Linked DNA regions of Homo sapiens. The protein of the gene in region 5 purifies or fractionates together with the protein of the main gene of each other region. This does not show direct contact. Each region holds a gene or a part of one and is shown on either strand. Other genes may lie near its edges.

Region 1 (3,500 bases), on a different chromosome or scaffold from region 5:
TGTGCAACATAACAAGACCCTGCCTCTGTGAAAAAATTAAAGGCATGGCGGTTCATGCCTGTAGTCCTAGGGAAGCGGAGGTAGGAGGATTGCTTGAGCCGAGCAGTCTGAGACTGCAATGAGCCATGATCATGCCACTGCACTCCGGCATAGCTGACAGAGCAACAGTCTGTCTCTTAAAAAAAAAAAAAAAAGGCTGCAGGGTGTGTACAGGGGATTATTACACTATTCTGTTTGGGTTTGGGTTTGAAATTTTCCAAAGGAGAAGATTTAAAAGAATAATAACAGAAAAACCTATAGAATATGCAGTTAGGATGTCTGAAATAGAGATTTTGAAGGTGGTACAAATAATGGTGCTGAAAATAAGTGAAACTATTCACCGTATGTTTGAAAATATAGGAATCAACTAAAGTACTGAAAGGTTTTTAAGTTTGGCCGTTTGGGATATGGTACAACCTCTTCCTCAGAGGTCTTTTACTTTACTACTAGTCTCCCCCTACACCAAAGAAAGGCAAGTGCTTTAGTGCTATGCCTGGCACCTAATAGGAAGCACTAATATTATCTTCTCCTTAGAAAAATAATAGAAAATAAAAATAAATTTTAATAAAAATAGAAATAAAAAAATTTAATTAACTGTACCTCTTTACCCCTCCCAAGGAAGCAAAACACCATCTACTCCAGCTCTGCTATCTTCCTAGCTTCAAAAGCCTAACGTTGCCAAACCCTTTCCCTACCTTAAAGAGTCTATGAATCATCACAAAACCCAATGCTCCAGAAAGGAGGCAAAAGTAAGTGAAAAAGGAAGCTACTGTCCTTGTACAGTCCTATTAAGAATCACCAGTATTATGTGTTTTAATTATTGCTGTTTTATAAATTACTTCTGAACCTGGCACAGTGAGGCTCCCGTTCCAGTTTTGAGAAACTATTCCTTACTCTTTATGCCTGTGTAGCTTTTCAGAGGTACTTCAGGAACTACCCTGGGAAATGAGAGTTTGGGGGACCTGGAGAGGACATGAGAGGGCGGGCTGGGGGCCTGGTTCAGGACTCAGGTCCTCACTTGGTTTGTTCTCCTTGCCCTTGGAGGTGATGGTGAGGGTGTGCACATACAGCCGCAGATACCAGGGTACGGTGTCCAGCAGCAGCACCGGGAAGGCCCGGTATGGGTGGGTGTTGTACAGCAGTGTGCTCAGCTCCCCCTTCTGCAGCCCATAGCCACTCACGTACCGCTGGGCATGCAGGAAGGGCACTGGGGGGGCCTCTGTGTAAAGAAATATCAACAGTTAACAGCTGCCAAAGGTAAGAATCACTCCCCACCCCACCTGCCCAGGCCATGTTCAGAGTCCCAAGCCAGTGAGTAGATGGGGAACAGCCCTGCCACTGAAACTGGGCAATCTGGGTTCTGGAATCATCCCTGTCTTCCCCAGCCAACAAGCGATGATGACAATAGGTTGCTAGTATTGAAGTGCTTACGTGACGAACACCGTGCCCCCTTCGAACCCAATCCAGGTCCTCTCAGGATATTCTGCTCTTTCCCTTGGTAAGGGAACTGAACACAACTGTAATTAATTAACTGACACCTGCCCTAGCTAGTAGACTTATATTTCTTGAGTGCAGTGTCCTCTGTCTTATTCAACACTCTATGCCTGGCACTTAGTATGAATTCAAAAGTATTTGGTTGATTAAGCAAATGCATGAACTAACTCCATTTTTCACATCATCTCATCCAATTTGCTAAGTATACTCTATTTTTCAGATGTGGATGCTGAAGCTTGGGGAGTTTAGGAACCTACCCAAAATCGTAGAGCTTGGAATAGCTACAGTCAGCAGCATATGACTCTGGAAATCTGGTCTAAATACAACCCAATCATCTAACGGCAAAGACGTGGGATTGTGAGTCTTTTCTCTGTAGCCGTTGCAACCCAGCAGTCCAACCAACCACCCACTCACCATTCTCTGGGGGTCTCTTCCACTTGAGCTGGATGTTGAGGTTTCGAGAGTTGTTGATCATGGCGGTGTCAAGCAAGTCATAGATGGCATAGGTCTTCCGAGTGCCTAGGATGACGTCCTGATATGTAGTGGTCGGGGGTGGGTGCACCTCTAATGTCTCGTTGTCCTGGGGACACAAAGGCAGGGCTAAGAAGCAAGCAGAGAGGGTAGGCTGGTCCTGGGGACCAGCGGTGTGTTTGTGTGTGTGGCTGGAGACCTTGTTACCTGGTTGTAGGTGGTGATGTCCACATAGACTCGGCTCTCTGAAGCCAGGGGGCAGGGCTCCGTGAGGGTTCGGGAGAACATCCGGAAGAGGGACCAGTCTGAGAAACAGAGCGCAGGGCTGAGCAGGGGCCAGGCCTAGGCCTAGTCCACATAGATAAGGCAGGGCTGGCATGGGTGGGTACAGATGAGTTGCCAAGGTAACTTACCTTTCTTTCCCTGCCCCGTGATGAAGGCATCAAATACAACTGACAGGGTCTGCCTCAGCTCCCAGGAGATGCTAGTACAGCGTGCATTCTATCACAAGGGCCAGATGGCAGCAGTGAGGGGGTATCACTCTCACCACACAGCCCCCAAAAAGACTCCTACTCAGACTCAATCCCTCATCTATGTATCTTCACATCCATCGATTTGCTACCACCCACTCCTGAGCACTTGACCTCGTGCCAGACCCCGTGCTGACAGCTGTATGTGCATCAGTTTGATAAACTATCACAACAACCCTAGGAGTGGATTCTACTATCAATGTCATGTGGCAGGGTGGGAAACCAAGCTCAGGGGAATGAAATGATTCACCCAAGGTTACGCCAGCTGGCAAGTGACTGAGCTAGCAATTGCACCCGCATAGCTATTGTTCTGAACCACTATTTTCCATGACAAATATTTATTCAGTGCTTGCTAGGCAACCACTGTTTTCTTGGTGCTTGGCCAATGCCCTGAATAACCGTCATCACATCTACCACTCAGTACTCACTCAGCCTGAGCCAGACACTGACCACATGCTTTACATGTACCTTCTCTGAGCCCCTGGATGGCAGCTTCCTCTACTCCCCATGACTTACTCTGCAAACAGGGCGGATATGCACTGCCTGGGAGTGGTAGCTGGTGTGGAACAAGCGATCTGCCTTCAGCAGCACAGAGAGGCCTGCCTGGAGGAGATGGAAAGAGATAAGAGAAGCCCTGTATGGAGCACTTGGCATGGGGCGCAGGTTCTCTATACACCCCCCGCCCCCGGCTGCCAGGCTCTGCGGCCTCACCTTGGAACTACAGGGCAAGAGCTTCTTCCAGGGGGTGAGGTTTTCGGTGCAGACCACCTCCCGCGGCAGCACAGCATAGCGCAGAAAGTAGTGGTCAGTGTCTGAGGGAGACAGAGGTCTGTCTGGGGTGGGCCTTGGGCTCTGACCCCTCGGGATCCACATTCCAGAGATGGGAATGACCCTCCTGCTCCCCACACCACCTCTAGCACCACAGTCTGGACAGTCCCAACTGGGAGTAGGACTCCCTTCTCTCCT
Region 2 (3,500 bases), on a different chromosome or scaffold from region 5:
GCCATGATTGTGAGACCTCCCCAGCCATGTGGAACCGCGAGTCCATTAAACCTCCTTTTCTTTATAAGTTACCCAGTCTTGAATATTTCTTCATAGCAGTATGAAAATGGACTAACACACCAGTCCTTGAGGGGCTACTCTTCCAGACTTTCCTATATAGCCCCACTGTAGACCCCTGAGGAGGAAACTGGGCTAGGGTCTGAGTGGGGATTTAGGGATGAAAAGCAGCCTTTTCTACCCGTCAGAGCCATCAGCAGGCCATAGCTAAGGCAAGTTTGTAGGCAGGATATAAGACACTGTGCTTCTCACTCTTCATATCTGTGTGCATATGGACCCACATATGTTGGCAGTAAATTCTCCTTAGCCTTTCAATCTCCTTCCCAAACTCAGCCATTTTTCCATTATTTTCTCCTTGTTCTGCAACCTAGTGGCCTTCCTGGGACAACATAACTTTGTGATTAAGACCTTGAACTTTGGAGTTAGGTTTAAAGACTGGAACTTAACCTGTGTTTCCTCATCTGTGCAATGGGGTAGTAATGGTACTTATATTATAGACTTATTGTAAGGGTTAAGAGGCAAAAAATAAAATAAAATTTAGAATAATTCCTGGTATACAACAAATGTTCAAATGGTTGTTGTTTTTATTATTTCCTCTGTCTTTCTTAAGCCCAGTCAAGTATGTGAAATTTGCATCAAGAAAGATGGGCAGTGAATTGAATTCCTATAAACTTGACTTGGAGGTGTGTGTGTATGTGTGCAAATACAGAATTGCTGTATTTATAAATTTTTAAACTAATAAACTTAACCACTTACTGGTGGGAAAATGCACTAAAGAAAATTTTTTAGAGTTAATAAGGAGTTCTAATGTGTTTTATTTCTATCATAGTCACAAACATAACAATGGTCAGCCCATTTGGTTTACCCTGGGCATCCTGGAGGCTCTCAAAGGTTGGGACCAGGGCTTGAAAGGAATGTGTGTAGGAGAGAAGAGAAAGCTCATCATTCCTCCTGCTCTGGGCTATGGAAAAGAAGGAAAAGGTAATAGTATTTCTGTATTTTTCTTACTATAGCACTAGAGTTGTTCTCTGGATTAGGAGACAGAAGTTAGAGTCACTATAACTTTTTTTTTTCCCCTGGAAGTTAATAGGGGGTATGTATTCCTTTAGCAACTGTATTATGTCTTGAGTATCAATTGAAATGGCCAGTTTAAGGCCGTAATGTCTAAATGGGCAACTATGCTAACAATAAAAAAAGAACATTGAGGTCTATTAATACTGTTCACAAATATGGTGGGTTGTTTTAATTGTGATAAAATATACATAAAATTTTTCATTTGAACCATTTTTAAGTACACAGTTCAGTGGCATTAAATACATTCATGTTATTGTGGAACCATCACCACTATCCATCTTCAGAATGTTCTCATCTTCCCAAACTGAAACTCACCAATTTACTTTAACAATGCAGAGAGAAAGATCCATTAACGTAAGTGTTTGGATGAGTTGAACATGTGAAATATAGATTATTAAAGTATTGAATGCATTTTAGATGTGGGTTATATATGGGTTGTACTTCATGAATATTAAGTCTCCCACAGCAAACTGGGAGTTCTTTTCATTCCCGTTTTTAAATTTATTTATAAAGTTTTTAACAATGTATTTAAAAAAAATCATAGAGTGACATGAAATGAATTTAATTCTCCCTGTGTCACAAAGCAGAAGCAAGCTGGCTAGCTGGTCCGGACAGCTTTTGTACTAGTTTTTCAGGGCAGACACATATCCTGCTGTTCAAGTGAGAACCCCTGCAACTTTCCAAAGAGCTGCTTTGTGATATATATCAAGAGGTCTGGGCCAGGCATGGTGGCTCACACCTGTAATCCCAGCACTTTGGGAGGCCAAGGAGGGTGGATCACTTGAGGTCAGGAGTTTGAGACCGACGTGGCCAACATGGTGAAACCCTGTCTCTACTAAAAATACAAAATTAGCTGAACGTAGTGGAGTGCACCTATAATCCCAGTTACTTAGGAGGCTGAGGCAGGAGAATTGCTTGAACATGTGAGGCAGAGGTTGCAATGAGCCAAGAACGTGCCACTATACTCCAGCCTGGGGGACAGAGCCAAACTCCATCTCAAAAAAAAAAAAAGAGGTCTGAAGATGTCTATATGCATTTATTCTATAATTCCTTCAAACCTAAGGGAATAATTAGATATCAGGAAAAAAATTTGTGAACAGGGATGTCCATAATTGCATTGTTTCTAAGCAAAAAATTGGAACTGTCGTAAGTGGTATACTGGTAAGAATTTAGCTAAATAAAATATGGCCCAGTTATTTAAAATGGCATTTCCAAAGAGTTTAAAAATTATATCTGAAATGCATGAGATACAGTATTATATATAAAAGTAGAAAATAAACCTATAGTATATATGATAGTAAATATAGGAAAAGGTACATATACATAGAAAGTTAATCATAAGGAAATAAATAAGAATGTTAAAAATGGACTGTGATACTGGGAATCATATTTATTTCTGGTTTTATCATCCAAGTATGTGCTCTACAATGAGCATGTATTACTTACATAATGAAGAAAAAAAAGTTTAAGTAGTCATCAGAACCAGACAGACAACTACTCTGATATAGTATAAATATAGACTTCATAGCATCCTGAAGTCTAAGGTTAACCACTGACAAAAGTGAGGAGTCAGGATTCACAGCCCATTTCCTGAGAAGGAAAATAGATGCCATATGGCAAGCATTATATATTCCAAAATATACAAATCTATACAAATCTTGTTCATAGGATAAGATTAACTAACCAAATTCAATTCTTCTTTTAGTCATAATCCTCTTTAGAGAAGAAAACCAAGTATCTAGAAAATTTTTTCTGATGCTGAGAATGTTTTCATTTTATCTTTATTGTCTCACCTTTAATATTTACATACAGTAGTTCCCCTTTACCTGTGGTTTCACTTTCTACCGTTTTAGTTACCTGTGGTCAACTGCAGTCTGAAAATATTAAGGTATTTTGAGAATGAGAGACAGATTGCATTCATATAACTTTTATTATGATATGTTGTTGTAATTGTTCTATTTTATTATTTTTAATCTGTTACTATGACTATTTTATAAATTAAACTTTATCACAGATATGCATGTATAGGAAAAAGCATTGTATGTATGGGGTTTGGTACTATCCATGGTTTCAGGCATCTAATGGGATTCTTGGGACATATCCCAGTGGGGACTACTGTACGTTGTATTAGTCCATTACTCTTTCTCATACTATATTTAACTCAAGTTTACTTCACAATAAGTAGAGATCTAAATTTGAGTCATTTCCTTCAAACTGAATGCCATGAAACTAATTTTTCTAATCTGTATTTAACACTAATTTTGTAGTCTTTTAGTACATGCTTGCATGCCTCTTTTGGAAAGATACCAGTTTTATCAACAACCTAGCGCATGTCACATCTCTGTCTAGATCTGAAATGGTAAGCTTCA
Region 3 (3,500 bases), on a different chromosome or scaffold from region 5:
TGCCTCTACTAAAAATACAAAAATTAGCTGGGCGTGATGGCAGGCACCTGGAATCCCAGCTACTCTGGAGGCTGAGGCAGGAGAATCTCTTGAATTCACGTGGTAGAGGTTGCAGTGAGCACAGATCATGCTACTCTACTCCATTCTGGGCGACAGAGTGAGACGCTGTCTCCAAAAAAAAAAAAAAAAAGTAATGCCTAATAACAATCAGCAATTAGTAAATTTTGTCTGTGATAACTTGTTTGCAATCTCGTTATTGTAATTAAATGGACGGCACATATGTTTTCTAGGGGGTATTGGTACAATAGGTTGTTTCTCAATAATAGCCCTTAAAAGGAAAAAGAAATAAAATGATTTTGTAGATTCATTTATATTTGATAACAATGTTATACAAATTATGTGGATGGTTGATAGGTATTACGTAAAGAAGGGCTTCCTTGGTGTCAGTGGAAAAACTCAGAGATAAATGTTAAGAAATATTACATTCCAGTTTTGGGATTTGTGAAGAAAAAATGAAGAGAGCAAAGAAAAAAGGAAAAAAAATAAAAAGAAATATGTTGTTTGCAAGGAAATCCAGCCTTCAAAAGAACTGGGTTCCCTGAATGAAGGCTTCAGCAGTTGTACAAGGGGGAAAAAACAAAAAAGTTACACCTAATCTGTTTATTAGTCTCACTGATGAAAAAGAGCAGTTTTCTCACATGATGACCCAACCTTCAGGGGTTATTTAAATGGCTGTAAATATCAGCATTACGTAAGTTAGAGACGTGTAAGTTGTTTTTGTAAGAGAATTGGCATTTATAGGAAAGGGGCTTGGGGCTTATATTGGGGATTGATGTTAAACTGAAAAAGGATGATTCCATGTTTTTTGGTGGCCTTTCTCAGGTTACAAAGTTGTTTTCTCTGAGGTACTTGAAGGGGATGCTTAAAGTTTTGTGAATAAGGTGATTGGTGACTATTAGCTTTTTAATTTTTTTACAAACATTTTCTTATAAAAATATTTTATTTATTTATTTATGAGGTGGAGTCTCACTCTGTCACCGAGGCTGGAGTGCAGTGGTGCAGTCTCGGCTCTCTGCAACCTCTACCTCCAGGGTTCAAGCAATTTTCCTGCCGTAGCCTCCTGAGTAGCTGGGATTAAAGGCACATGCCACCACGCCCAGCTAATTTTTGTATTTTTAGTAGAGACGGGGTTTCACCATGTTGCCCAGGCTGGTCTCGAACTCCTGACCTTAAGTGATCCGCCCGCCTCAGCCTGCTAAAGTGCTGGGATTACAGGTGTGAGCCACCATGCCTGATCAAAAGTATTTAAATCAGAACAAAGACATATTATATGTACTTTTAACATAAATATATTGTTGAACATTATCATTGGTCAGTAGCATGGGTATTGAAATAAGCAGATAAAAGGGTGAGAGGGCATGGGATAAAGTATAGATGTTTATTAGGCTGTACCAAAAAATCAGAATATTGAAATAAGAGTGGACCAGAAATAAGGACTGCCTGTATAAGAGGAAAATAACTTGAGTTTCACTTTTGCATTATCATTCGTATTGCATATGTTTTTAATGATTTTAAAATGATTATGTATGGAGGATTCTTTCTTTTTTATTAAGGTTTGCTGGTGAGGCCCATGACCCGCTAGTTGAAGCACTAGTTACAGAAGCATGGAGAAGGCTAGAAAGGCAAGTACCCTGGGTTCATCTTGAAGATCAGGGTTATTCTTTTCAGGGTTAACAGAGTGAAATCTTGAAGGGAAAGAACAGGGAACTGATGCCTGTCAAGCTTCACTGAAAAAAATGTATTTAAACTCAGTTTAGTTTTAAAGTTTTTGATTGTGTAATGTGTTGTTGTTTTTTTTTTTTTTTTTGAGATGGAGTCTCACTCTGTCGCCCAGGCTGGAGTGCAGTGGCGTGGTCTCAGCTCACTGCAACCTCTGCCTCCTGGGTTCAAGCAATTCTCTGCCTCAGCCTCCTAAGTAGCTGGGATTATAGGCACCCACCATGACTCAGGGCTAATTGTTTGTATTTTTAGTAGAGATGGGGTTTCACCATCTTGGCCAGGCTGGTCTTGAACTCCTGACCTCGTGATCCACCTGCCTCAGCCTCCCAGAGTACTGGGATTATAGGCGTGAGCCACCGCTCCCAGCCATGTCTTTTCTTTTTTCTTTTCTTTTCTTTCTTTCTTTTTCTTCTCTCTTTTTCTGTCTCTCTTTTTTTTTTTTTTTTTTTTTTTTTTTTAATGGACAGGGTCTTGACATGTTGCCCAGGCTGGTTTTGAACTCTTGGGCTCAAGCAATACTTCCTCCTTGGCCTCACAAAGTGCTGGGTTTATATGCATGAGCCACCATGCCTGGCTGTGTATTCTTTAAGAGAGAAAAGAAAGTATTTCATATTTTTCCTCTTTAAGAGTGGGGAATAGTATACTTTTCCACACATGTAATTAGTTGAAATATAAATAAGATAGAGTCACAGCTATTCATGAACTAGCCTTTTTGAATCTTCTTTTCTAGAAGAATACTTCAGAAAGGAAAGATTCTTGATTAATTGGCTATCAATAAAAACCTAGAAGTGCAGGAGCCAGGAAAGGAGAAAAAAAGAGACCCTAGTTTATTAGAGAGGAAGGCCATTTAACACTGTTTAGGAGCATCTGTAGCTACTTGTCTGTTACTCCATTTTTAAGGAGAGGCAATGACCAGAGCTTATAGGTGACTTAGAAGCTTTTTAAAGAAAGTGAGTTTCAGGTCCACTGCTGTGGACAGTATTAATTCAGATATATTTCCTATATTGTACACAGCTCTATTTTCAGCATGTTGCCTTACTTGATAATCATTCAGAAAAATGGGAAATCTTGTGAGTACAGAGAAATTTATTCTCTAATTATATATCAGAAGCTCTTTATTTATAAAAGGGCTGAGATAATAGCAGACTCATTTTGGGAAATCTTCATCTATTTCTGAAAACTTTGAATTTTTTAATCTAGGAACTCTGGATGATTGTAGTCTATTGTTAGTGGAATAAGGCAAATGTTAGGGAGGAAAGAAAAAAATCAGGGTGAGGAAGAGATAGGAGGATATTAAAAACTACAGAGCAACTCTCCCTCTAAATCAAATGGAAACCAGACAGGAAAGTCTTGACTAAGATGAAGGAGAAACAACAGGCTATTTATTTGTAGACAGAGAGGAGCGACCATTCTGATTTTTAAAATATTTTTAACATATTGCCTCTTAAAGCTTAAACTATAATAAATACTTATATATTGGTAAACTCTGTAGGCCTTTATTACATGGGCTGGATTAAATTAAGGGACAGAACAGTTCTCCAGATTTAGAAATTCTGTATTAATCTACTAAGTTGTGATTTTAAGTTAATCTTATTAGCTAAACCCATCTGTCTTCTTTTATACTCTCTACCTATAAGTATATTGAGGGTAAGCAGAGTAATCTTATTCCTTTTGCTAACAGTACAAATTATCTATTTACTGGATCTTTGGGGTTAGATTTG
Region 4 (3,500 bases), on a different chromosome or scaffold from region 5:
TTTTTTTTTTTTGATTGGGAGTCTCGCTCTGTTGCCCAGGCTGGAGTACAATGGCGCAATCTTCGGCTCACTGATGCCTCCCGGGTTCAAGCAATTCTCCTGCCTCAGCCTCCTGAATAGCTGGGATTACAGGCACCCACCACCACACCTGGCTAATTTTTGTATTTTTAGTAGAGATGGGGTTTCACCATATTGCTCAGGCTGGTCTCTTGGCCAGGCTGGTCTCAAACTCCTGACCTCCTGATCTGCCTGTCTTGGCCTCCCAAAGTGCTGGGATTATAGGGATTATAGACGTAAGCCACTGCACCTGGCTGAGACCTCAACTCTTGAAAAAAAAAAAAAAATTAATCTTATCTTCCATAGAAGCAGGTTCCAAGACTGTTTAGTTATGTTATCAATTAGTTTGAGTTACCTAATAAGAACATATTATTTTAAAATTACACTAGTAAATAAACTTTTCATTAGATCTAGTTGACAGATATTTACTCAAAAAAGATTTACTGAGTTGAGCCTGTTCTTCTACGTGGCTGTCTACTCTTATAGATATATGAGCTCCTATATATACTGAACCCCTTTAGGATGGCCAAAGTCGGGCAGGTCTGGTGCCTTGCACCTATAATCCTAGCAATTTGAGAGGCTGAGGCAGGAGGATCTCTTCAGCTCAGGAGTTCAAGACCAGCCTGGGCAACATAGAGGGACCCTGTCTCTTAAGCAAAAAAAAAAAAAAAAAAAGAAAAGATTGTCAAAAAATCTGGGAAAAAGGTCTACTTTCAGAAAACTATGGAAGTGGGGTCAATAGCTGTTTTCAGAGATGTATGCTTTGTCCTCTGATTACATTGACATTCTTATAGGACAATAATGGGCTTCTACTTTTACAATAACCTCTATCCCCAAAAAGCAGTGATGCCCTGAGGTGGAGGAAGGGGATGTCATTGAATAAGGGCTGAATTAATTAATCCAACTGTGAATTCCCAAATCCAGCTACAAGTGTAAATTACCTGGGGAACTTTATTAGTACAGATTATTGGATCCTGTTCTTTTTTTTTTTTTTGAGACGGGGTCTTGCTCTGTCGCCCAGGCTGGAGTGCAGTGGCGCAATCTCAGCTCACTGCAAGCTCCGCCTCCCGGGTTCACGCCATTCTCCTGCCTCAGCCTCCCCAGCACCTGGGACTACAGGCGCATGCCGCCATGCCCGGCTAATTTTTTTTTATTTTTAGTAGAGACGGGGTTTCACCGTGTTAGCCGGGATGGTCTCGATCTCCTGACCTGGTGATCCACCTGCCTCGGCCTCCCAAAGTGTTGGGATTACAGGCATGAGCCACCACGCCTGGCCTGGATCCTGTTCTTCATTGAGATTCCAAGTTAGTCTTAGAATGTTGTTGTTTTGTTTTTTTTTTAATTTTTTATTTTTTGAGAGAAGGTCTTTTTCTGTTGCCCAGACCATAGTTCTATGGCACAATCATGGCATCATGGGTCACTGCAGCTTTGAGCCCCTCAAGTGATGAACCTGACTCAGCCTCCCAAGTAGCTGGGTTTACAGGTGCGCCACCACCACGCCTGGTGATTTTTTTTTTTTTTTTTGTAGAGACGTGGTCTTACTACATTGCCCAAGCTGGTCTCAAACTCCTAGGGTCAAGCCAACTCCTGAGGTCAAGTGATCCTCCTGCCTCAGCTTCCCAAAGTGCTAGGACTACAGGAGTGAGCCACCATGCTTGGCCTGGAATCTCTTTTTTTTTATTTTTCTTAACAAGATTACTTGGCGCAGGGACATGGCCTTCACACTGGACTGTATGACACACCAGGCTGTCCCAGGTAGCAATGCAACCTTTGATTCATACACATAGCTGAACAGCAGTGACCGCATGCACCGAAGTCATATTACCTCATAGGCTTCTGCCAGCTGGGAGAACTTCTCCTTGGCTTTGGGATCATCCTTATTTGTGTCAGGGTGATACTTCTTGGCAAGCTAAGGGAAAAACATGATAAATTACTCCAGATACAATGTGAACCCCAAATACCAGAAACAACAAAACCCCCGATACAACAGAACCCCAAATACCAGTCATAATTATGTTCCCTTTATAAAAGTTGTCTCTCGGCTGGGTGCAGTGGCTCACGCCTGTAATCCCAACACTTTGGGAAGTGAAGGCAGGCAGATCACTTAAGCTCAGGAGTTCAACACCAGCCTGGGCAACACAGCGAAACCCCTCTCCACCAAAAATAGAAAAAATTAGTCAGGCGTGGTGGCACATGCCTGTGGTCCCAGCTACTCAGGAGGCTGAAGCACGAGAATCACTTGAACCTGGGAGGTGGAGGTTGCAGTGAGCAGAGATCGAGGCACTGCACTCCAGCCTAGGTGACGGAGTGAGATTCTGTCCGCCCCACAAAATAATAATAATAATGATCTGTTTTAATGTATCCATCTCTTAACTTGAGGGCAGGAACTGATTCTGATGTATCTTTGCCCTTAGCACCCAGCATGGCTTAGAATAGGTAAATGAACAAAAAAGAAAAACAAATTTTTAAAAAGGGGGCCGGGCGCAGTGGCTCATGCCTGTTATCCCAGCACTTTGAGATGCTGAGCTGGGTGGATCACCAGAGGTCAGGAGTTTGAGAACAGCCTGGCCAACATGGCGAAACCCCATCTCTACTAAAAATACAAAAATTAGCCAGGTATGGTCACACGCGCCTATAAACACAGGTACTCGGGAGGCTGAGGCAGGAGAATTGCTTGAGCCCAGGAGACAGAGGTTGCAGTGAGCCAAGACTGCACCACTGCACTCCAGCCTGAGCCACACGGCGAGACTCTGTCTGAAAAAAGAAAAAATTTTTAAAAAGGGAAGAAAATGACTGAATAAATAGACGTCTCTGCTGTTTCAATTATTTTTGTAGGTAAATAAAATACAGTAATTGCTACAGCTTTACCTGATCTTTTTACTTCCGTGCCTAAAAATCTGAATGGTTCTCTAAATTAAGTCTTTCTCTTAAATTATGTCTCTGGGACTTACTAAGGGCCTCAAATCAACTGTCATGTGAGTCCAACCCAGCCTCCATCTTTTCAATCTTTTCCCACTCTTGGATCAGGCACCTGACTCTTGAGCTCAGGAAGAGACAGGCCATTCGCTCTTCACAGGCCAGGATCTCTGCTTCCTGTCCCCATGCCTCTGTTCATTCCATTACAACCCAATTAAAAAAAAAAGACAACCCAGTTAAAAGTGGGCAATGGATCCAAACACACGTTTCTCCAAAGACATACTAATAGCCAACATGCACAAGAAAGATGCTCACCATCATTAGTCATCAGGGAAAAAGCAAATCGAAACTCTAACGAGATAGCATTTCTTATTCACTAGGGTCGTAATTAAAAAGACAGACGATAATAGTTAAGTGTTCACTGGGATGTGGAGAAATCATGGCCCTCATATGCTGCTGGTGGGAATGTAAAATGGTGCAGCTGCTTTGAAAAAGGCTGGCAGCTTCTCAAAAGGTTAAACATCCAG
Region 5 (4,062 bases):
GGGGATAGGGCAGAGTGCCTGCCTGGGTAATGAATGTGTGAGATCACTATGCCCTGAGCTCCTGAGCTGCCTTGGTGACCTCCATTAGACTCTACAGCACGAGCAAGGCTACTGGAGGTAGCCAAGCTGAGGACAGAGCCTTGCCCCTGTGTGAGGAATGAGGGGCTGCTCAGACCTGGTGGTCCTCAGGTGCTGAGCAACCAGCCACCCCTATCCCTTAGGGCACCTGAAGGGTGTGATTTACTGTCTTTTCAGAGATTGGAGCATGGATTGGCCAGCTCAAGTGTGTATCCCAAGACCACAAGCCTGGACACATGTTAGAATATCCTGGCTTGATTTAACTTTCACCGTACCTTAGAAAAAAATATTTTCTTGTAGAGATGGGGGTGCTATGTTGCCCAGGCTGGACTCGAACTCCTGGGCTCAAGTGATCCTTCTGCCTCAGTTTCCTGAGTAGCTGAGAGTAGCTGGGACAGGTGCATGCCACAATGCTGGATCACCTTATCTTCTATTAGGCTAGAATTTTCCAACAGCTTTGAGTACCCCACATGACTTTTTAAATGTATTACCCTCCTGTGTCACTGAACCATCAATGTGTTCCCCAAATTGTAACATGCAAAGTGACCTCCTCATCCCACAGTGGCGCAATGGTAAGCACCAGTGTTCCTCTGTGGAGGGACCCTTTGCCTGCACTCTCTTTCCTAAGCAGATGGATCTGTGGGGCAAGGGCATCTGCTGAATGGGGTGGGGGTGGGGTGTAGTTGCTTAGAATGAAGCAGTCTTTCAAAATCATTATTTAAAACACATCTATCTGCTTAATTTCAGTTCCTTGGGCAAAGCCCCACTGGAGGGGCTGGAGGGAAAGTAGGGTCACTTGGAGATCCTGGATGCCAGCCCCTGAGGTTTGGTCTTCATCTCACTGCGGGAGGGGTGACACCATGAGCCAGTCCAGGGCAATGGGCTGCGAGGGTGAGGAGGTCTGAGAATCGGCCGAGATTAAGTTGAGGGACTCCAGGAGACTGCTTGGACCAGCGGAGTGAGGAGAGGGAGGGGCCAAGGAGGGAAGTCAGCCGGGGCGTACCCAGCCCGGGAGGTATAAGGGAGGGCTGTCACTAGGGGCGCCCTTGCGGGTCAGACACCACGAGCGCCGTGGCGGGTGGCCCCTGGGGGGCGCCACGCAGGCGGGGCACTAGGAGCATCCCCACCCAGCTCACCAGAGGCCGCGGCATGCGGCCAACAGGGGGCGCCGTCGTGGGGGCGGCACTGGGAGCGCCTTCCGGAGAGACGCAGTCGGCTGCCACCCCGGGATGGGTCGCTGGTGCCAGACCGTCGCGCGCGGGCAGCGCCCCCGGACGTCTGCCCCCTCCCGCGCCGGTGCCCTGCTGCTGCTGCTTCTGTTGCTGAGGTCTGCAGGTGAGTCCCTCCCGATCCCTACCCCACCCGCCTGACGCGGCCCTCGCCTTCCACCTCTAATCCGCTCGACGTCCTCCGCAGGTTGCTGGGGCGCAGGGGAAGCCCCGGGGGCGCTGTCCACTGCTGATCCCGCCGACCAGAGCGTCCAGTGTGTCCCCAAGGCCACCTGTCCTTCCAGCCGGCCTCGCCTTCTCTGGCAGACCCCGACCACCCAGACACTGCCCTCGACCACCATGGAGACCCAATTCCCAGTTTCTGAAGGCAAAGTCGACCCATACCGCTGTGAGTACCAGGGGTGTAGACTCCGTGGGGCAAGGAGGGTGACAGAGGAGTCTTAAGGACCTTGGCTGGGGCTAGGGGAGCAGAAGGGACGGGGGCGAGCAGGATAGAGGAGCGCCTCCTTCTACAGGTGTTCATTGAGCACTAAACACCTGTGGGTCAGGCCTGGTCCTGTCTGGAGGCCCAGAGCTCTGGGTGTCTTGTCCTCACAGGCCTCCCCTCCTGCTGAGGTAGGGGGCAGGAAAGTCAGAGGGGCCTGGGGCCGGCTGTGTGTTCCCGCCTCGCCTGAGCTGGCTGTGGGGCAGGTGGCCTCTCACCCTGCTCCAGGCCCTGACACCCATCATGCCTCTGACCCAGGCTCCCAGCCAGGGACCTCTGGGATCTCCAGCACAGCTTTCAGGGCCAGGCTGTGTGAGCCTTCCTGTGGTGTCTCCAGGGTGCACACGTAAGACGTTCTCTTGCCCAGTGGCTTTCAGGCATGTTTAACAGACCCACATAAGACTGGGACTCAGCACATAGCATTTAACTGCCACAGAAAGTCACCCAAACAGGACTTCCAGTACCCTGTGCTGTGCATGCCGATGTTTTCTTGCCTATGTTATCCTTTAAAAAGGCTGGTCACGGCCCACTTACATTTACAATCCACGAATCCATTTGGAAAACACTAGGAATGGGACTCCTGAGATGTTGGATATGTGCATCTTCAATCTAGAGAAATTGTTTTCCAAAGCGGCTGCAGCAGTGAGCACTCCCACCAGCCGTGGGTAGGCATTCTGGGTGATAATCCTCACTGACACTCGGTGTCACAGATGTTGCGTTTTTGCCAGGCGGATGGTACAGAGCAGAATCTCATCATGATTGAAATCTGCATTTTCAGGCTGGAGGTAGTGGGTCATGCTTATAATCCCAGCGCTTTTGGAGGCTGAGGCAGTAAGATCACTTGAGGTCAGGAGTTTGAGACCTGCCTGGGCAACATAGTGGGACTCTATCTCTCCAAAAAATTAAAAAATAAAAAAATTAGCTGGGTGTGGTTGTGTGTGCCTGTAGTCCCAGCTATTCAGGAGGCTGAGGTGGGAAGATCATTTGAGCCTAGGAGTTTGAGGTTACAGTGAACAATGATCATACCACTGCACTCCAGCCTGGGTGACAGAGCAAGACCTCATCAGAGGAGGAGGAAAAGGGAAGAGAGAAGAAGAGGAAAGAAGAAGAAGCAGTCTGCATTTCCCTGCAGACTAAGGGCGGAGCAGCTTCTGTGGTCATTGGCTACTGGGATTTTCTCCTTGGACTATGCCCATTTTTCTGTTGGGGCATCCACTTTCCTCTCACTGAGCCACAGAAAGGGGTTCCCAGAGGAGGGAGAGAGCTCTGCCTTGGCTGAAGTAGGGGACATGGTGAGGGTGGAACCAGGTGGAAATGAGAACAAGTTAGTGAAGGATCTGATTGGAGCTGAGAGTGTGTTGGTGACGGCAGAGGGGCCAGTGGTACACTGGGCTGGTCGGCTGGGGATGCTCTAGGGCCCGGGCTGTGGGAACAGGGAGAGAGATATCTGGGCAGTGCTTGGACCCTTCTGAGGCATGAGACTCCAGTCCACATGTGGACAGCATCATTCCATGGTGACAGGTGAAAAGGGAGCACCCCTGGATGGGTGCAGGCCAGTGGCTGGAGAGGCACGAGGTCAGGCTGGGGGAGGGGAGGGACAGGGAAAGATCCATCCCTCATCAAGCTCTCACCTTCCTCCTCAGCCTGTGGCTTTTCCTACGAGCAGGACCCCACCCTCAGGGACCCAGAAGCCGTGGCTCGGCGGTGGCCCTGGATGGTCAGCGTGCGGGCCAATGGCACACACATCTGTGCCGGCACCATCATTGCCTCCCAGTGGGTGCTGACTGTGGCCCACTGCCTGATCTGGTGAGTCAAGGCTGAGGTGGGGTGGGTGGAGAGGTATTTGGAGCTGCTGTGGGCCCAGTCATCCCCTCCCTGCCAGCTGTTCTGGGCCCACAGTCCCAGCCCCAGCCTCATCTGGGCTCCAAGCAGGTGGAGGCTGAGTCCTGAAAATTCCTTCAGAGCTCCAGTCTTTTCAGTGTCCCACCGTTCGCTCCCCTCGTCTGGCCTCTCAGTCCCGTGCAGTCATTCCGCAGATGGGAAATGGAAGCTCAGAAGCCATTTGTCTGGCCTCATGCCTCCTCTCCACGGGAAGAAGCTCCTAGTTCTTTCATTTCACCCCCTTTGCACCCACATCCTTGTTCCTCCCTTCAATCAACCGTCTCTGACACTTCTTTGAGCAAGGCCCTGGCCTGGACACTGGGGGCAGAGGAGGGATGGATCATTCCTTCCAGCTTGTTGGGGGAGACAGAAAGGAAGATAGATGCTCAC
Region 6 (2,214 bases), on a different chromosome or scaffold from region 5:
GAATGTGTGTTTATGAAGCAGACAGGGTACTTGGGAACACAGAGGGCAGACTATAATCATCTCACATTGTCAACCCTGGGTGGGCACAAGAAAAGTGGTAAGAAAGCCTGAGCTCCTTTTCTGGGAATGCTTGGAAATAGTAGTTTGCACTGGCCCCAAGAACAGGCGCAGTGGTCTCTGAAGCCTGAGACTCTGAGTCTCACTGCAAGACTTTACCTAAAGGAGACACAGCTGTAGAGTTCTTGACATACGCTGCAGACAGCACTCCTGGAGTTGAGAGATGAGATCCAACCTCACCCAGCCCCTTCAGTCGGGGCCAGGTGTGGTGGCTCACACCTGTAATCCCAACACTTTGGGAGGCTGAGGCGGGCGGATCACTTGAGTCCAGGAGATCTAGACCAGTCTGGCCAACATAGTGAAACCCCGTCTCTAGAAAAAAAACAAAAATTAGCCAGGTGTGGTGCTGTACGCCTGTGGTCCCAGTTACTCACAGGCTGAGATGGGAGGATCCCTTGAACCTAGGAGGTGGAGGCTGCAAGGAGCCCAGATCTCACCACTGCACTCCAGCCTGGTTGACAGAGCAAGCCCCTGTTTCAAAGAAACCAACAGCAACCCCCACCCCCGCTAAATTCCAGCTAGGTTCAGTCCTAGGTCAGACTCCATGTAACTTTGGTCTTGCTTTCAGACAATGGCTTTGGCCACAGCCGTCTTGTGAAGGAAAACCTGATTGACTACTTCATCCCCTTCCTGCCTTTGGAGTACCGTCACGTGAGGCTGTGTGCACGGGATGCCTTCCTGAGCCAGGAGCTCCTGTATAAAGAAGAGACACTGGATGAAATAGCCCAGATGATGGTGTATGTCCCCAAGGAGGAACAACTCTTTTCTTCCCAGGGCTGCAAGTCTATTTCCCAGAGGATTAACTACTTCCTGTCATGAAGGCTAGAGGAAGACTTCCTGGAACTGCCTTTCTTCCACTAACAGGACCCTGGGACCTGTAGGAGCACCCCGTTTGGGACTGTGAGGTGTTTGAGGGTGTGGACTGGCATCCAGCAGCCACTAACAAACACACAACTGGTGTGTAAAAGGCAGGCCTTACATTAGAAGCCAAGCCAATCCTTTTTCTTTTTTTTGGAGGTCCCACCGAGATAGATAGGAACTTGGATTGCTGAATTCAAAAACAGAGCCCATTCTTAAGATCACTTGGTGCCTTAAAGACACGCATTCCAAAGTGGAATGTGGTTGAAGAAAGTGGGCCAGGTGGTTGAAGAAAGCCATGTGGGAGCTCAGCAAATCCCAAGGGCTTATTATGACACTCCAGATGGTCTCCTTAGCATCTCAGCTCTTCTGCAAGGAAGAGCTTGGGTGTTAGGCCTCAGAGGCTGTAGGGTCCTTGGGTTACAGAGCCGGGGAGAACGAAGTTCTGTGACCCAGGGGTGGAGAATACACTCTAGGTTTGCAGGCTGGTGGGCTTTCAAATTGGTACTTCCAGAGGAAAGCCAAGCTGCTTCTGTTGTGAGCGAATCAGCCAAGAGCCTGAGGCTGAAGGGAAAAGTACACAGAGGAAGATATTTTACAAACCAGGTCAGTGTAGGCCAAGACTTATGGTCTACAGATTTTGGCGGGGGAGGGGGGACCTTTTCAAAGACAATAGGGGGTCTTGACATGTTTGTTGTATGTAAAGATGATAAGATTAAAATTTTTGATTTTCCTAAAATCCTTGGCGTACTTTCTGTTTCTGAGACCTAGCAAAATTTCAAACAAACACTGGGTAATCCTGATAAGGCCTGGCAGAGACAGGGCAGATGCTGGCACACACGGAGCTGGCAGGGTATGTGACTGGTCTGCCTGTCTAGTCTGTTTGCTTTGGGACCACATCAGTGAAGCCAAGTCATGCCAACCTCCTACTGAAGAGACTCCCATAGCACATTGCTCTTATATATGAAAATGTTCACTCCTGTACTCTCAGCTATAAAAAGAAAAGCAGTCATTCTGAGGATTAAATGGCACCGTGTAGACATGTAGCACTGTGCCTAGACACAGTGTTCATTATGTGCCTTTCCCCTTTTCTTGGTTCTTCTCCCATGCCTCTGGAATAACACAGGTCTTTTTTCCCTATGTTTTTTATATATTAATTATACACACATATAGAGTCAGGGTGTCACTATGTTGCCCAGGCTGGTCTGGAACTCCTGGGCTCAAGCTATCTTCCTGCCT
Region 7 (3,048 bases), on a different chromosome or scaffold from region 5:
AAACCAGCAGAGATGATGACTTATAAGTCATGGAGGAAGGACGAGGTGGATTTGAAGAGAAAGCCACAAAATAGGAAGGGTGAAGGTCTCCAGTCCAAGGACCAGGTCTGGAAGACTGGAAAAACGGAACAGATGACGTTTAGGGAAGGGAGACACAGGCTGCCCCAAGGTTCAAGAATAAAGGGTAGCATAAGACAAGAGTGCTTACCCTTGGCAGTGGAGTCACACTTCTCCTTTTACAACCCCAAAGAAAGTCTGGTGTCCAGTTCAGCCCTGCTTGTGTCACGTATCCTTTGCTGCTCTGAGTCCTTGGGGCCTGAGAACTGGGACCCATGAGTCCTGCTGCCCAGCTGCTACGGGCTGAATTCTGTCCCCCTAAATTCTTACGTTGAGAAACCCCTGGAACCTCAGAATGAGACTGTACTTGGAGATTGAGCATTTAAAGAGGTGATTAACTTAAATGAGGCTGGTTAAAGTTAAAATCCAGTCCAACTGGTGTTCTTAGAAGAGGAACGTTGGGCACATAATGAAACTTAGAGATGTGTGTGCATGGAGGGAAGACCGCACAAGGACACAGTGAGAAGACAGCTGTCTGCAAGCCAACAAAAGAGGCCTCTAGGAAAAACCAGGCCTGCTGACACCTTGATCTTGAACTTCTAGCCTCCAAATGTGAGAAAATAAATCTCTGTTGTTTAAACCACCTGGTTCTGTGGCATTTTGTTATGGGGGCCCTAGCAAACTGAAACCCAAGCCTTCTGCACTGTTCCGGGATGTTAACTTTTCTGTGAACTAACTCCAAACCTCTGCTGTGTAATGTGTGAGAAACCAGACCCGGAGAATGCCTTTCCAGAGTCCAGGAGGTTAGATGGGTTGGGCTTCCCCAGCCAATTGACAAAAACGTGCCTGTGGTGGATCACAAATGCACTTGTGTGCAGTCAGAGATTGTTTCCACTCTTAGTTCCTTCAGCAAACTTCCCGACGGGCCCCAGGCCTCCTTCTGGTCTCTGAAAGCTGTTTCTAAGCTCACAGGTTCTTAGGGCGATCTCCACTGCCCGAAACATCCTCTCCCTAGCTGGAAACCACCTTCTGGATCCGTTCCCGTACTTCCTTTGGTCCCAAGGCCAACATCATCTCAGCTACAGGAGGTCCTTGCTAAGAACAAAAAGAGCAAATATTGCCTTACTACCTTAAACAGCCTAAAGAACTGAAGCTCAGCCTTAGTCTGCAGAAATTATTCCCAGGCCAGCCCCCACACTGCTGCCTGTGTTCTGAGGATCAGTGCTTGTGTTATTTCCCTGGAAAAGGATGGGTCCTAAGAGCCTGTTTCTCCTCCAACCACCGCCCTTTTTTTTTTTTTTTTTTGAGATAGAGTCTCACTCTATCACCCAGGCTGGAATACAACGGTGCGATCTTGGCTCACTGCAACCTCTGCCTCCCAGGTTCAGGCAATTCTCGTGCCTCACCCTCCCAAGTAGCTGGGATTACAGGCGCACCACCACCCCCAGCTAATTTTTGTATTTTTAGTAGAGACAAGGTTTCACCATGTTGCCCAGGCTGGTCTCAAACTCCTGACCTCAGGTGATCCACCTGCCTAGGCCTCCCAAAGTGCTGGGAATACAGGTGTGAGCCACCGTGCCTGGCCTGATTTTCCCATATTAAGTAAGCTGTTGCTAGGTCTGTTATCCCCAATAAACTGCAAACCCCATGGAGGCAGAGATTATGTATGTGTGTTTAATTCTATATTGTATTCACTGTACCTAACACAATGCTTGCACATAGTAGGTACTCAATAGTGTCTGTTGATTGACTAAATGAGGGGAGTGATCATGTTTCATTCACCTTTGTATACTCAATATTGAGCTCAGTGCCTGCCAGGAAATGTAAGTTCAAAGGATCAATGAGGGGCTCCAGGGAACAATCCAACCCGTGTCCCTGCCTCACCTGCTGTCCACTGAGGGCCATCCGAAGGAGTTTCATCACATTACTGTACTTGGTGCCTTCCAGACCTTCTGATAGCTTCTTCAGTTCTCCATTCAGCATATCCTGAGTTAAGCTCATACTAGATCTTTCTAGAAGCCTAGAAGAAGAGGGCCAGTTTACAGGGCCTGCATGGGCCAATGGCAAGTGGGTGGGAGGAAGGGCTTCAGAAGGTTATTGATCAGCTACAGTACGAGCAGCACAACCAATGTTCAAGCCTGTTTTGAGGGAGGTGAGGAAGATATTGACCACTTTCTCCCTTATCCAGGTCGGGAAGGAAAAACCACCAAGGGACCACACACAGAGAAGCCAGTGGTCACAATGCAGGGAGGTAAGAGGTGCCATAAGAGGCTTTACTCATTGCTACCTCTGTGTCATGCAATCTTTATGCCTCAGTTTTCTCATTTGTAAAGTGGGGAGAATAATAGTATCTGAGGCTGGCGCAGTGGCTCACACCTGTAATCCCAGCACTTTGGGAGGCCAAGGCAGGCAGATCACTTGAGGTCAGGTGTTCGAGACCAACCTGGCCAACATGGTAAAACCCCATCTCTACTAAAAATACAAAAATATTAGCCAGGGATGGTGGCGGGTGCCTGTAGTCCCAGCTACTCAGGAGGCTGAGGCAGAAGAATTGCTTGAACCTGGGAGGAGGAGGTTGCAGTGAGCCGAGATTGCACCATTGCACTCCAGCCTGGGTGACAGAGCGAGACTTTGTTTCAAAATAAAAAAAAAAAAATAATAGTATCTGTCCTGCACAAGGCTATCGTAGAGAGTTAAAACTTATAAAGCACCAAGTGCCTGAACACATGATAAATACTCAGAAATATTACCTTTTTTTTTTTTTTTTTTTGGAGATGGAGTCTCGCTCTGTTGCCCAGGCTGGAGTGCAATGGCACGATCTCAGCTCACTGCAACCTCCACGTTCCAGGTTCAAGCGATTCTCCTGCCTTAGCCTCCTGAGTAGCTGGGATTACAGGCACGTGCCACCACGCCCAGCTAATTTTGTATTTTTAGTAGAGACAGGGTTTTACCATGTTGATCAGGCCGGTCTCAAACACCTGACCTCAGGTG

The links.
Region 1: the proteins of PRSS50 (region 5) and PIGT purify together in Homo sapiens (affinity purification with mass spectrometry; 2 studies listed by BioGRID and IntAct, with this or other methods). This does not show direct contact.
Region 2: the proteins of PRSS50 (region 5) and FKBP14 purify together in Homo sapiens (affinity purification with mass spectrometry; 3 studies listed by BioGRID and IntAct, with this or other methods). This does not show direct contact.
Region 3: the proteins of PRSS50 (region 5) and FASTKD1 purify together in Homo sapiens (affinity purification with mass spectrometry; one large-scale study listed by BioGRID and IntAct). This does not show direct contact.
Region 4: the proteins of PRSS50 (region 5) and DNAJA3 purify together in Homo sapiens (affinity purification with mass spectrometry; one large-scale study listed by BioGRID and IntAct). This does not show direct contact.
Region 6: the proteins of PRSS50 (region 5) and TOR3A purify together in Homo sapiens (affinity purification with mass spectrometry; 2 studies listed by BioGRID and IntAct, with this or other methods). This does not show direct contact.
Region 7: the proteins of PRSS50 (region 5) and EARS2 purify together in Homo sapiens (affinity purification with mass spectrometry; one large-scale study listed by BioGRID and IntAct). This does not show direct contact.

What each region holds. Positions count from the first base shown.
Region 1 is NC_000020.11:45,419,141-45,422,640, reverse strand, and holds part of PIGT (GPI-anchor transamidase component PIGT isoform 1 precursor), read right to left. Parts: intron 3,347-3,500; coding exon 3,246-3,346; intron 3,169-3,245; exon of another isoform or gene 3,138-3,168; coding exon 3,051-3,137; intron 2,506-3,050; coding exon 2,418-2,505; intron 2,310-2,417; coding exon 2,212-2,309; intron 2,114-2,211; coding exon 1,948-2,113; intron 1,259-1,947; coding exon 1,058-1,258; intron 1-1,057. UniProt on the Homo sapiens protein: Component of the glycosylphosphatidylinositol-anchor (GPI-anchor) transamidase (GPI-T) complex that catalyzes the formation of the linkage between a proprotein and a GPI-anchor and participates in GPI anchored protein biosynthesis.
Region 2 is NC_000007.14:30,020,203-30,023,702, reverse strand, and holds part of FKBP14 (peptidyl-prolyl cis-trans isomerase FKBP14 precursor), read left to right. Parts: intron 1-886; coding exon 887-1,038; intron 1,039-3,398; exon of another isoform or gene 3,399-3,490; intron 3,491-3,500. UniProt on the Homo sapiens protein: PPIase which accelerates the folding of proteins during protein synthesis. Has a preference for substrates containing 4-hydroxylproline modifications, including type III collagen. May also target type VI and type X collagens.
Region 3 is NC_000002.12:169,567,366-169,570,865, reverse strand, and holds part of FASTKD1 (FAST kinase domain-containing protein 1, mitochondrial), read left to right. Parts: intron 1-1,613; coding exon 1,614-1,682; intron 1,683-3,500. UniProt on the Homo sapiens protein: Involved in the down-regulation of mitochondrial MT-ND3 mRNA levels which leads to decreased respiratory complex I abundance and activity.
Region 4 is NC_000016.10:4,435,868-4,439,367, reverse strand, and holds part of DNAJA3 (dnaJ homolog subfamily A member 3, mitochondrial), read right to left. Parts: intron 1,967-3,500; coding exon 1,883-1,966; intron 1-1,882. UniProt on the Homo sapiens protein: Modulates apoptotic signal transduction or effector structures within the mitochondrial matrix. Affect cytochrome C release from the mitochondria and caspase 3 activation, but not caspase 8 activation.
Region 5 is NC_000003.12:46,715,070-46,719,131, reverse strand, and holds the start of PRSS50 (probable threonine protease PRSS50 precursor), read left to right. Parts: upstream 1-1,262; 5' UTR 1,263-1,307; coding exon 1,308-1,413; intron 1,414-1,494; coding exon 1,495-1,695; intron 1,696-3,434; coding exon 3,435-3,597; intron 3,598-4,062. UniProt on the Homo sapiens protein: May be involved in proteolysis through its threonine endopeptidase activity.
Region 6 is NC_000001.11:179,094,283-179,096,496, forward strand, and holds the end of TOR3A (torsin-3A precursor), read left to right. Parts: intron 1-685; coding exon 686-936; 3' UTR 937-1,714; downstream 1,715-2,214.
Region 7 is NC_000016.10:23,523,303-23,526,350, forward strand, and holds part of EARS2 (nondiscriminating glutamyl-tRNA synthetase EARS2, mitochondrial), read right to left. Parts: intron 2,078-3,048; coding exon 1,942-2,077; coding exon of another isoform or gene 1,825-1,941; exon of another isoform or gene 1,718-1,824; intron 1,153-1,717; coding exon 1,069-1,152; 3' UTR 1-1,068. UniProt on the Homo sapiens protein: Non-discriminating glutamyl-tRNA synthetase that catalyzes aminoacylation of both mitochondrial tRNA(Glu) and tRNA(Gln) and participates in RNA aminoacylation for mitochondrial protein translation.